2 separate regions of the Homo sapiens genome follow, and region 1 is linked to region 2. A link means that fine-mapping ties the variant in region 2 to the expression of a gene that starts in the linked region. Tissue or cell type: whole blood. Region 2 holds a variant in brackets; the other region holds the start of a gene. All regions are shown on one strand. Distances are between the middles of the regions.

Region 1 (5,518 bases), 74 kb before region 2:
GACAGGGTCTTGCTCTATCGCTCAGGCTGGAGTGCAATGGCGCGATCTTGGCTCACTGCAAACAAGCTCTGCCTCCTGGGTTCACGCCATTCTCCTGCCTCAGACTCCCGAGTAGCTGGGACTATAGGCACCCGCCACCACGCCTGGCTAATTTTTTGTATTTTTAGTAGAGACGGGGTTTCACCGTGTTAGCCAGGATTTGTATTTTTAGTAGAGATGGGGTTTCACCGTGTTAGCCAGGATGGTCTCAATCTCCTGACCTCATGATCCGCCCACCTTGGCCTCCCAAAGTGCTGGGATTACAGGTGTAAGCCACTGCGCCTGACCAGTCTTTTTTTTTTTTTGAATGTTTAAAAATGTTTCCATTTTGTGCCACCTTCCTTTAGTCAACAATAACCCAAGTTTTGTTATTATTAGTTTATTGGTTTAGCCAGATTTATCTTGATGAAATTTTACAAAAATATACTTTGCGGCTGGGCACTGTGACTCATGCCTGTAATTCCAGCACTTTGAGAGGCCGAAGCAGGTGGATCACTTGAGGTCAGGACTTTGAGACCAGCCTGGCCAACAGGGTGAAACCCTGTCTTTACTAAAAATACAAAAATTAGCCAGGTGTGATGGTATGCACCTGTAATCCTGGCTGCTTGGGAGCTGAGGCAGGAGAATAACTTGAACCTGGGAGGTGGATGTTGCAGTGAGCCGAGATCGTACCACTACACTCCAGCCTGGGGAACAGAGCGAGACTCCGTCTCAAAAAAAATGCTTTTCTTTATTCTTTGTTTCTTCTTCTATATGACAAACAATGAAAGAAAGTATTAAAGGCTGGGCATCATTTGTGGTTTGTGTCCCACAGTTTGCATTCCAGATTTGATCTGGTGCCTAGAACCTGCATACACTTAGCATTGCCACCCAGCACCCAACTCTACCACATCTGTATTAGTCTGTTCCCACACTGCTATGAAGAAATATCCAAGACTGGGTAATTTATAAAGAAAGAAGTTTTAATTGACTCAAAGCTCTGCATGGCTGGGGAGGCCTCAGGAAACTTACAATCGTGATGGAAGGCACCTCTTCAGAGGGCCGCAGGAGAATGTGTGCCAGCAGGGGAAAATGCCAGGCAATTATAAAACTATCAGATCTCGTGAGACCCACTCACTAACACGAGAACAGCATGGGGAAAACCAACCCCATGATTCAATTATCTCCACCTGGTCTCACCCTTGACACATGGGGATTATTACAATTCAAGGTGAGATTTGGGTGGGGACACGGAGCCAAACCATATCAGCATCTCTCCTGATTTTCCAAATGCAAATGTCTTATAGTCTCTTGCTGAGGAATATACAGTTGCCGACTTGCCCTTTCTCTGACCACCCCACACAAACACCATATTGGAATCAGACAGAATCTGAATGCCGGAACTAGAATGCCTCCTCCTTTAGGGAAGTAAGCTCCATAACTCCTGTCCACATTCCTAACCTGGAAGAGTGACCCCTTCCCTCCAGAGGTGCTGATCCCACCATTTTTGCTAAAATAGGAAGCTAGGGTGGAAACGGAGAGAGGAATGGTGGGTGAGATATTTTGTTTTTTCAAAGGCTCTGCACAGTATCTTCAATTAGATAAAGTGGCTGTAACTTTTCTTCTATTGACACTGCCCTCTTTCCTTTATTCTACTGCCTGCAAAAGAAGGCAACTGAAGAAGCCTCAAGTACCAGGGCAGGTTTTGGCTAGCTGAAGAAAGGGTAAGGTATAGGGGGGAAGACTGGAGGTGACCATCTTGGGAGTGGGTGAGAAGTGAGAGCCCAAAATGGGTCTTCTTACCTCTCTGGTACATTCTGTGCTCTTCTCTGGTCTGACATCCGCCCAGGTTCATCCAGAAAAAGATGGAAATGATTTGAACAGGATAAGCTAGGGTGAGGATTAGACACGATGAGTTCAGCTGGAGACACTCATGGTAGAGTCTGGAGGTCTCTTTGGGGGATCACTTCCAAAAGTGCAGATTTTTAGAAAAACGAGAAAGGTTCTGGAAAGGGATGTTTTCCTTCTGCTCAATGGCAGTTTCAGGTTTCCTGTAAGAAAGGAGTTTGTAGCGTCAGTATATTTGACAAATGTGGGAGAGGGAAGATTCAAGAGCTTGAAATTGCATTGCACTTCCCAAAGATGGAGAAGACATCAGGGATGAATTTCAAAGGTGATAGAAATCGGGAACTGCCCTTTGAGGATTTCAAGGGGAGAGGGAGCAAAGGCCTCACCATCAATCCACACGTCCTGTGCTAGAGTCTTGCGATTCTTATTTCCCCTACCCTCCTGCAACGATTATTCCCATATATCAAGGCCATCTGACAGAGTTAACCATCAGAATTAAATAGCAGTTCCCACAGAGTTCCATCCCCTGGAGAGGTACCTAGCTGCCGGGGCAGGCCTGAAGCCTCGGTCAGGAGGCATTGAGTCTTTCACTCTCCACGGAGGTCTTGGACTGAGAACTTCAAGTTCCAAAGGGATGAGGTGTCGGCTTCGCCCTTAGGAGCCTGGAGGGCTCTGACCAAGGAGAAGGGCGGAGCCCAGCCACTGGAAGGTTTGTTTCTTGCAGTGGAAGACGGTTGGCGACCCGGATGGCTTTTGTTACCAGGGCCAGCCCAATCCGCCCGATTCTCGGTCCCTATACTGCCTCCTTTTCCCATGCGCATCGCAAGGGATCGGTTGATGGGGCCCTCAGTATGACTTCGCTAGGAAAAATAAAGGTCTTCTTAGGCGGGAGGGGACTGATTTGAGGACGGAGGGTGGGAGTAGTGCCAGCAGCACTTTGTCGTAGTGGCACTGGGTGGGCAGTTATCAGTTGCAGTCCGCTCGTTTCTCAGTGCCCACGGTTTCTCACTGACAGTGCAGCTCGTTTCTCAGAGCCGGCGGATGTTCATGGGCAGCACCATCGAGCCAGAAGCAGTATTTGTCCTGGTAAGTCATTTCTCAACTGCCGAAGTGTACTAGGTTCCAGTCCCGCTGGTTTCTCGAATCTGCTAGTCCCACACGAGCACCAATAGGTAAACCCAGCCGGCAGTTTCCGGCTAGCACTTTCGCTATTTGAAGACATTAGGAAGTTATGTGGTGGCTCCGTACCCTCCTTTCTCCATCCGAGGCCGGGGTCCTAAAGTCGGTGTCACGGTGGCAGCACCCAGCGTTTTGTTGGCTCTTTCGCCAGCAGCGCCGAGCGGGGGGTTTTCTGTCACAGCACTTGTTGCACCGAATTTCTCGGTCGCAGAACCTCTCTTTTCCGAGGGTCGACATTTTCTGCGTGACAACACCGTTGGTTCCGCCAAAATGGATGTTGTCCTTGGGAACTCCTCCGGCTGGCGTCACTCTTAGGGTCCCAGCACCGCCATTTCGCCAAGCCGAGTTCTCTTGGTCGCGGCACATCTTGTTCCTCGGTGCCTCCATTTTCTCGGTGGCGGCAGCGCTCTGGTAGCCGATCTGAGGGATTTGGAATCGCAGCCAGTTGCGCAGAGTCTGGGGTTCCCGGGCGACGCCGGCGCTGGGCGGGGGAGCCCGCCGCTCCTCCGAGCCAGAGGCAGAGGAGCTGCGCGGACGCCGTCTCTTCACAGCGCCGCGAGCGCCGACGCACGGGTTCCTGCTCGGCCTCCTGAACCCAGTCCCCCGGCGGCGCCGCTGGCGTCTCTATCGCAGGCCCCTGCGGTTTCGCCCGTCGTTGGCTTCTTGGTCCTAGCAAGTTTCGATTTCGCGGTGCCCGCTATTTCTACCTCTTGTCCAAATAACTAGCCAAAATGTGATTTCTCAGCCTAAGCAAGTCCCGATTTAGGGCATCGGTCTAGCCCTGGCTGCGATTTCTTGGTCCTAGGAAGTCACTGTTTAGCTGTAGCAAGGCAGACTTAACCGTGCGATGGTGACTTTTCTTTTTCTTTGGTTCTTTTTCTTTTCTCTTTCTTTCTTGATACGGGGTCCGGCTCTGTCGCCCAGGCTGGAGTGCAGTGCCGCGATCTCGGCTCACTGCAACCTCCGCCTCCCGGGCTGAAGCGATCCTCCCACCCCAGCCTCCGGGGTAGCTGGGACCACAGGCACGCGCCACCACGCCCGGGTAATTTTTTGTATCCTTCCTAGAGACAGGATTTCGCCATGTTGCCTGGGCTGGTCTCAAACTCCTGATTTCTTAGTCTGACCAAGTCAGAGTTTAGTTATTTCTTACCGTAGCAAGTTGAGAGTTATTCCAGTTTGCGATTTCTGGTTGTAACAATTCTGGCTTTAACCATGCCTACATAATTTTAGTAGTAGCAAATTCCTGTTCCGTAATAGGAGCCCCCATTATAGCCATGCGTGCGGTTTATAACTCCTGTATTAATCTAGGTACTGAAGAATGCAATTTAAAAAAATTTAGCAGTGTCTGGAATTTTTAAATCATACCAAGTTAGAATTCGCAATAGTCTCGCCCTGGCTATGCTGGCGATTTTTCACTCATGTAGAAGTTGGGGTACGTCGGCTACAGATAATTGTTGGTGTCGCAAATACCGGTTTAACCATGGCTGTTTCTTCTTAATCCGAGGAAACTTCGGATAGGCGCAAGAGGCACGGGTTTAGTGCTGACAAATATAATGGTAGGATCTCACCATTCGACCCTGTTTGCAATTTCTTTCTGTTTGTAGGATGCTTTGTATGTTTTGTATACTCAAAAAAAAAAATTTTTTTTTGGTGTATCTTGTTCTGGCAGCGAGGTTATCAGTGTATTTTGTTTTAATTTCTATTTGCTTTTAAATTTTTAATTATTTTTTAATTTAAATGTTACGGTATTTTTTTCTTACCCACTGTCTTCCCCGGTAGAATAAATGTGGCGTATTTCTTCTACTGATTTTCAGTGTCACGTCTCAGGTTCTTTCTAACTTGCCTTCTCCCGTGAGCACTGAAGGCGAGCTAGTTCCCCGCCGCTAGGGTTCTCTTCCGCGGCTCTGCTCTTACGCCGAGCCAGCGGTTTCGCATCCGCACTTTCGCCACTAGGGGCGACTCCGTGTTTTCTCGGTTGCCGCGCTCTTGGTAGCGCTGAACAAAACAACATTCCTTGTTCACAAGACTCACATGTTCTTTGTGGTATCGCTTCCTGTGTCCTAGCACGGCTACTTTCCCCGGGCTGGCTGTCTCACTGTCTCAGCACCGTGATTGGGCAAGACTGCTGGCAGGGCTTGGCCTCGGTTTTTCTGTCACAGGCGTATTTCACTGGGTAGGCGCTTTCTCGGTGGAAGCACCCTACAACCTTCCAACCACCGATATTTCTCAGAGACGAGTTTCTTAGTAGCAATGCCTTAACTGCGCCAAAAATAAAGTTTGCCACAGGACACACCGCTATTCAGTGTGACACTTGATATTGATGCAGGATTTTGGCTCCTCAGCTCAGCTAAGTCCAGGTTGTTGTTGTTGTTGTTGTTTGGAGACGGAGTCTCGCTCTGTCGCCCAGGCTGGAGTGCAATGGCGCCATCACTGCTCACTGCAGCCTCCGCCTCTCAGGTTCAAGCGATTCTCC
Region 2 (5,000 bases):
GAAAACCGGTAAAATTCTAGAGAGCACATAGAAACAAAACAAATCGTAATTCCGACAGAAAAACAGCGAGAAAAGAAGTCGAAATGAAACGGATACTAAGCAAACCTTACAGAGAACGAGCGCTACAAAACGCAGGGATTAAAGAGTTCTTCAGGGGCCAAAAACCATCTGTGTCCGGGAAATGAGCATTGCTGCCACCGGAAAACTGTCCGCTAGGTCTCTGCACTGCTCTGGACCTCGCTAGCAAGAATCTGGCGGCGCTGAGACTCAGCAAGCGCCGGCACCTAGCGGATAGCGCTGGTATTGCCAAACAAATATCCGTTTAGGCGCCATAACGGTGCTGCTAGAAAGAAACTGCGGATTCTTAGGAGGGGTGCTTCCATCCCGAAACATACTGTCTGGAGGAATGGACCGACTCTGTTTAAATGTGTTGTGACGTTTTAATGTGTTTTAATCCGTTTAATGTGTTTAATCCGTTTAATGTGTTTTAACACGTTTTAATGTGTTGTGACAGGAAAAGAGCCGGCTAACGGTATTACGGAAGTACTAGTTGGCACAGAGGCTCGGTGCAATTACCGTTCTGCACCGTAAAACGGGTTTAGGAAGTTCCTAGGAGATACTAGCGGTGCCAGAACCGAGAAAGTGACGACACAGACAACTTATGGACTCCGCGTACGGGAAACGTTCCGTTGGGCGCTAAGAACGGTGCAGCAACTGAAAAACCGCTCAGTGGGCGCTACTGGCAAAAGCGTTGCTGCAAAACCGCCAGCTCCGCATTAGAAGCAGAGCCGCCAGACAGAACCCGGGACCTGAAACCACCGAAGCGGAGACCGAGCTTGGCTCCCCAGCTCCTGAGAGAATGCAAGTCAAGGAGTACGAAGCTGTGATACTCAAAATTAGTAGAAGAAAAATGAATAACATTTAAATAAGATAAAATTTTAAAATAATAAATTCTAAAATTCAAATAAAAAGGCAAAGCAAACACACTGGAAACTACCGGTAGCATTGTTCTCAGAGCAAAAGACACAAAAAGAGCATTTAAAAATAAGCAAAAATTAGAGAGAACCAACCCTACAAAGCAGAAATTACAAGTATTGCCAAAAGAAGCAATTCTGTGATTAGGATATCCCTGTTAGATCTAAACCGGTACATGTTACACCTAAGTCTACATTTCTTAGGACAAAAACAAAAACAAACAACAACAACAACAAGAAACCAACAAAACCCAGTCATGGTTAAACCTGTTTACGACTAAAAAATCGTAGTAGCTGATATATCCCGACTTGGTCCACAAGAGGAAAAAGTCGCGTTCGGCGGAAATTGCTATCGTCAAACCGAGCTTCGTAAACCAGAAATCGCTTTTGCCGGCATTTCCTGACTTCCATGGGAGTTTAAAAAACACCAACATAGCTAAGGCGGGACTTGATGTTGCGCAGCTAGCCTTGGTGTAAGAGCTCCCAGGCACTGCTAAACTGGTCATCGCTAAACCTAAATGAATCGCATTCGCTGGTACACAGATTTCTACAGGAGTTGAACATCTCCTGCGCAGCTAAAGCAAGCCGTACTAGTAGGAAGCCGGAACTTGCCACGACTTAGAAACTTGAGGCTTTGGGAGGCCAAGGCGGGTGGATCATCTGAGGTCGGGAGTTTGAGACCAGTCTGGCTAATGTGGCAAAACCCCGTCTCTACTAAAAATACAAAAATTAGCCGGGTGTGGTGGCGGGCGCCTATAATCCCAGCTATTTGGGAGGCTGAGGCAGGAGAATCACTTGAACCCGGGAGGTGGAGGTTGCAGTGAGCCGAGATCGCCGAGATGGCGCCACTGCATTCTAGCCTGGACGAAAGAAACTCTGTCTCAAAAAAAAAAAAAAAAAAAAAAAAAAAAAGAAAAAGAAAAAAGAAACTTGAGGCAGGGCTAACTCTGCGTTTGTTATGATTAGGCTACAGGAAACCCGGAGTTGCTGGGAAATGAGTCACAGGGTCACTCAGCCTTTCTGTGGCGAAACATCGACTTCCTACGACCTAGAAATCGCCGCCAGGGCTAGGCTGGTGTTTGTCCTAAGTGGGTACTTGCTTGGGTTGAGAAATCACATTTTGGCTATTCCCCGACTTGAACCAGGGGATAGAAATCGTAGTCACCGGCTGGGCGCAGCGGCTCATGCTGTAATCCTGGCAGTTTGGGAGGCCGAGGCGGGCAGATTATTGAGGTTAGGAGTTCGAGACCAGCCTGGTCAATATGATGAAACACCGCCTCTAGTAAAAATACAAAAATTATCCGGGCGTGGTGGCGAGCGCCTGTAATCCCAGCTACTCAGGAGGCTGAGGCAGTAGAATCCCTTGAACCTGGGGTGCGGAGGTTGCAGTGAGCCAAGATCGCGCCACTGCACTCCAGGCTGGGCGACACGGCGAGACTCTGTCTCAAAACAAAACAAAAGGAAAAGAAGAGAAAAGAAAAAGAAACGCAGGCACCCTGAAATCGAAACTTGTTAGGACCAACAAGCCAACGACAGACGAATCTGCGGGGTCCTGCGACAGACAC[G/A]CCAGCCCCGCCGCCACAGCACAGGGTTCTGGAGGTCGAGCTGTTCTGCGGGTTCTGCGGCGGCGCTGGGAAGAGACGGCGCCCGGGCAGCTCCCCTGTCACCGGCTTGGAGGAGCGGCGGGCTCCCCTAGCCCAGCGCCGCCGCCGCCGCCCGGGAACGCCAGGCTCACCCCAGCTGGGGAAGCTCCGAATCCCTCAGATCGGCGACCTGAGTGCTGTCGCCCCGAGAAAATGGAGGCATCGAGCAACGAGCTGTGCTGAGACCGAGAGACCTCAGTTCTGCGAAATGTCGGTGCCTGGAGCTTGCGAATGACTGCGGCCGGCGGGTTGTCAAGGACAACATTCCTTATGGCGCAACCAACAGCGCTGTCACCAAGAAACTGGACTCTGAGAAAAAAGAGGGTTTCGGCCACCGAGAAACTCCGTGCCACATGTGCCGTGACAGCAAAACCGCCCGCTCCGCGCCGCTGGTGAAAGAGCTAACGAACGCCAGGTGCTGCGACAGTGACACCGGGACTAGAAGGCCTCGGATGGAGAATGGGACGCCCAGAGCAAGCAGGAAAACGTTTTGTTTGGCTCAACTAGCGCTGTCGCAACCGGAAAACTGTCAGGCCAGTGCTGCTGCGGATGTGAGAAACCGGTGATCCGAAGGCGGAGTGGCGCTGGGCGCTGGACTCGCTGGTGTGAAAATCTGGCTGCTCTAGGACCCGGCAAGCGCGGGCACCAGGCGAACGCCAGCGACTTTGCCAGACAAATGCATGTCTTTTTTGGTCGCCATTCAAAGATGCAGCCGGCAGTCAGCCCCGGCTCTGAGAAACAAGTGGAGGTGTCAGCCATAAACCCTCCGTTCAGGGAAAAGAGAGTCGCTGCGACGGATCGACTGGCCGTTGGGTGGAACTTTCTTTGGTGGCCTAGTGACTAGAAAATAAAAACGAAAACGAAATAAAAAACTGCTACTGACATTACTCCCACGCTCCCTCCTCAAGTCAGTGGCTTCAGGCTTAAGAAAACCTGTATTTTTCTTGGCTGATCCGTGATCCCTAATTACTGAGGGCCCCGCGACCCACCAAGTGCGATTCGCAGAGGGAAAGGAGCTGGAATAAGGATCCAGAATGGGACGGATTTGGCTCCTCCAGGAAGAAAGCAAAACAAATGCAGGTCGCGAACACTTTACATTGCAGGAAGCTGCTCTTCCAGTGGCCGCGGCTGGGTCCTTCCACACCACCTCTCTGTCCTAGGCCTTCGTCCCGGTTCAGCCCTCACGGATTCTAGGCTAGCGGTCAACAACCGCATCCCTCCGGAACCTGGAAACTCTAGGTCCGAGATCTCGGTGAAGAATGAAAGGCACAGCGCCGCTCAACCCAGGCTTCAGGCCTGCCCCGCTGGTCCCGTCCCTTCCCTGTGGGATGGAACTCTGTGGGAATCGCTCCTTATTCTGATGGTTCACTCATTCAGATGTCCTTGATATTTGGGGATATTTCTAAAACAGCTGGGGAGAAAAATGGACTGCGAGGCTCCGGTGTTGGACGTGAAATTGGCAGTGAGACATCCGCCTCTAAGCCCAGGGAAAAGCTTAAATTGTGGTTCTCTGTCTCTAGCACCGTGATCTTTGAAATGCGTTATTGATTTTCTTCTTTCTTCTGGGAAATGCAATGCAGGTGAACTTGTAAGTGTTGAATCCTCCCTCTCCTCACTGTTCAATCAGACTGAGGCCTACTTCCTTTCTGATAAGAAATATGGAACTGCCATTGCTCAGTAGGAAAATGTCCTTTCTACAAGCATTCATATTTCAATAAAAATCTGCACTTTGTGAGTTGAGCCCCCTCAAAGAGACCTACAGACCCTGCCATGAGCATCTCCATCCACACTCATCATTTCCCATTTTCACCACTTCTGCTCCTGTGCAAACCAGTACTATCCTTTTCTGGGGGATCCTAGGCAGAAGCGATGGCAGGACAAAGGCAGAGAAGGCACTGCCAGGTAAGGAAATCTATTTTGCCCTTGCAATTCTGTCTCCCAAGGGATTTGCCTCAATATCTCCCTCCCACCATACCCCTTCTTCAGCTAGCCAAAACCTTCCCTGCTATTTGAGGCTCCTCCAATTGCCTCCTGGTCCTGTGGTTGCAAGAATAAAGGAAAAACTACACTGTTCTCACCCACATAGTTACAGACACTATGAAATAGAAGAGCAGTCTGGAGTCATTGCAAAGCAAAATACCTACCATCAGTTCTCTCTTCCTATTTCTTTTTTTTTTCTTTTGAGACAGAGTCTTGCTCTGTCACCAGGCTCGAGTGCAGTGGCGCGATCTCGGCTCAGTGCAACCTCTGCCTCCCGTGTTCAAGGATTCTCCTGCCTCAGCCTCCTGAGTAGCTGGGGCTACAGGAGCGTGCCACAACGCCCAGCTGATTTTTGTATTTTTAGTAGAGACGGGGTTTCACCATGTTGACCAGGATGGTCCCG

The links.
Region 1: ANXA2R-OT1 starts here. The variant in region 2 is fine-mapped to the expression of ANXA2R-OT1 in whole blood (INTERVAL, PIP above 0.99).

What each region holds. Positions count from the first base shown.
Region 1 is chr5:43,064,521-43,070,038 of GRCh38, reverse strand. ANXA2R-OT1 (ANXA2R overlapping transcript 1) reads left to right here and starts at 2,600. Exons shown (of 3, transcript NR_104651.1): 1 at 2,600-2,741; 2 at 2,882-2,952. LOC100132356 (a long non-coding RNA gene) reads left to right here and starts at 3,068. Exons shown (of 1, transcript NR_034127.1): 1 at 3,068-4,852. It overlaps LOC100506639 (a long non-coding RNA gene), which reads right to left and starts at 3,016. Exons shown (of 3, transcript NR_102752.1): 1 at 2,253-3,016; 2 at 1,822-2,069. RefSeq lists an enhancer at 2,989-3,388.
Region 2 is chr5:42,990,358-42,995,357 of GRCh38, reverse strand. It overlaps FLJ32255 (a long non-coding RNA gene), which reads left to right and starts at 2,025. Exons shown (of 2, transcript NR_104643.1): 1 at 2,025-4,519. It overlaps LOC105374746 (a long non-coding RNA gene), which reads right to left and starts at 3,083. Exons shown (of 3, transcript XR_007058755.1): 1 at 111-3,083. RefSeq lists enhancers at 1,857-2,151, 2,421-2,550, 2,851-3,060, 3,401-3,550. The variant G/A (reference allele first, on the strand shown) is at 2,540.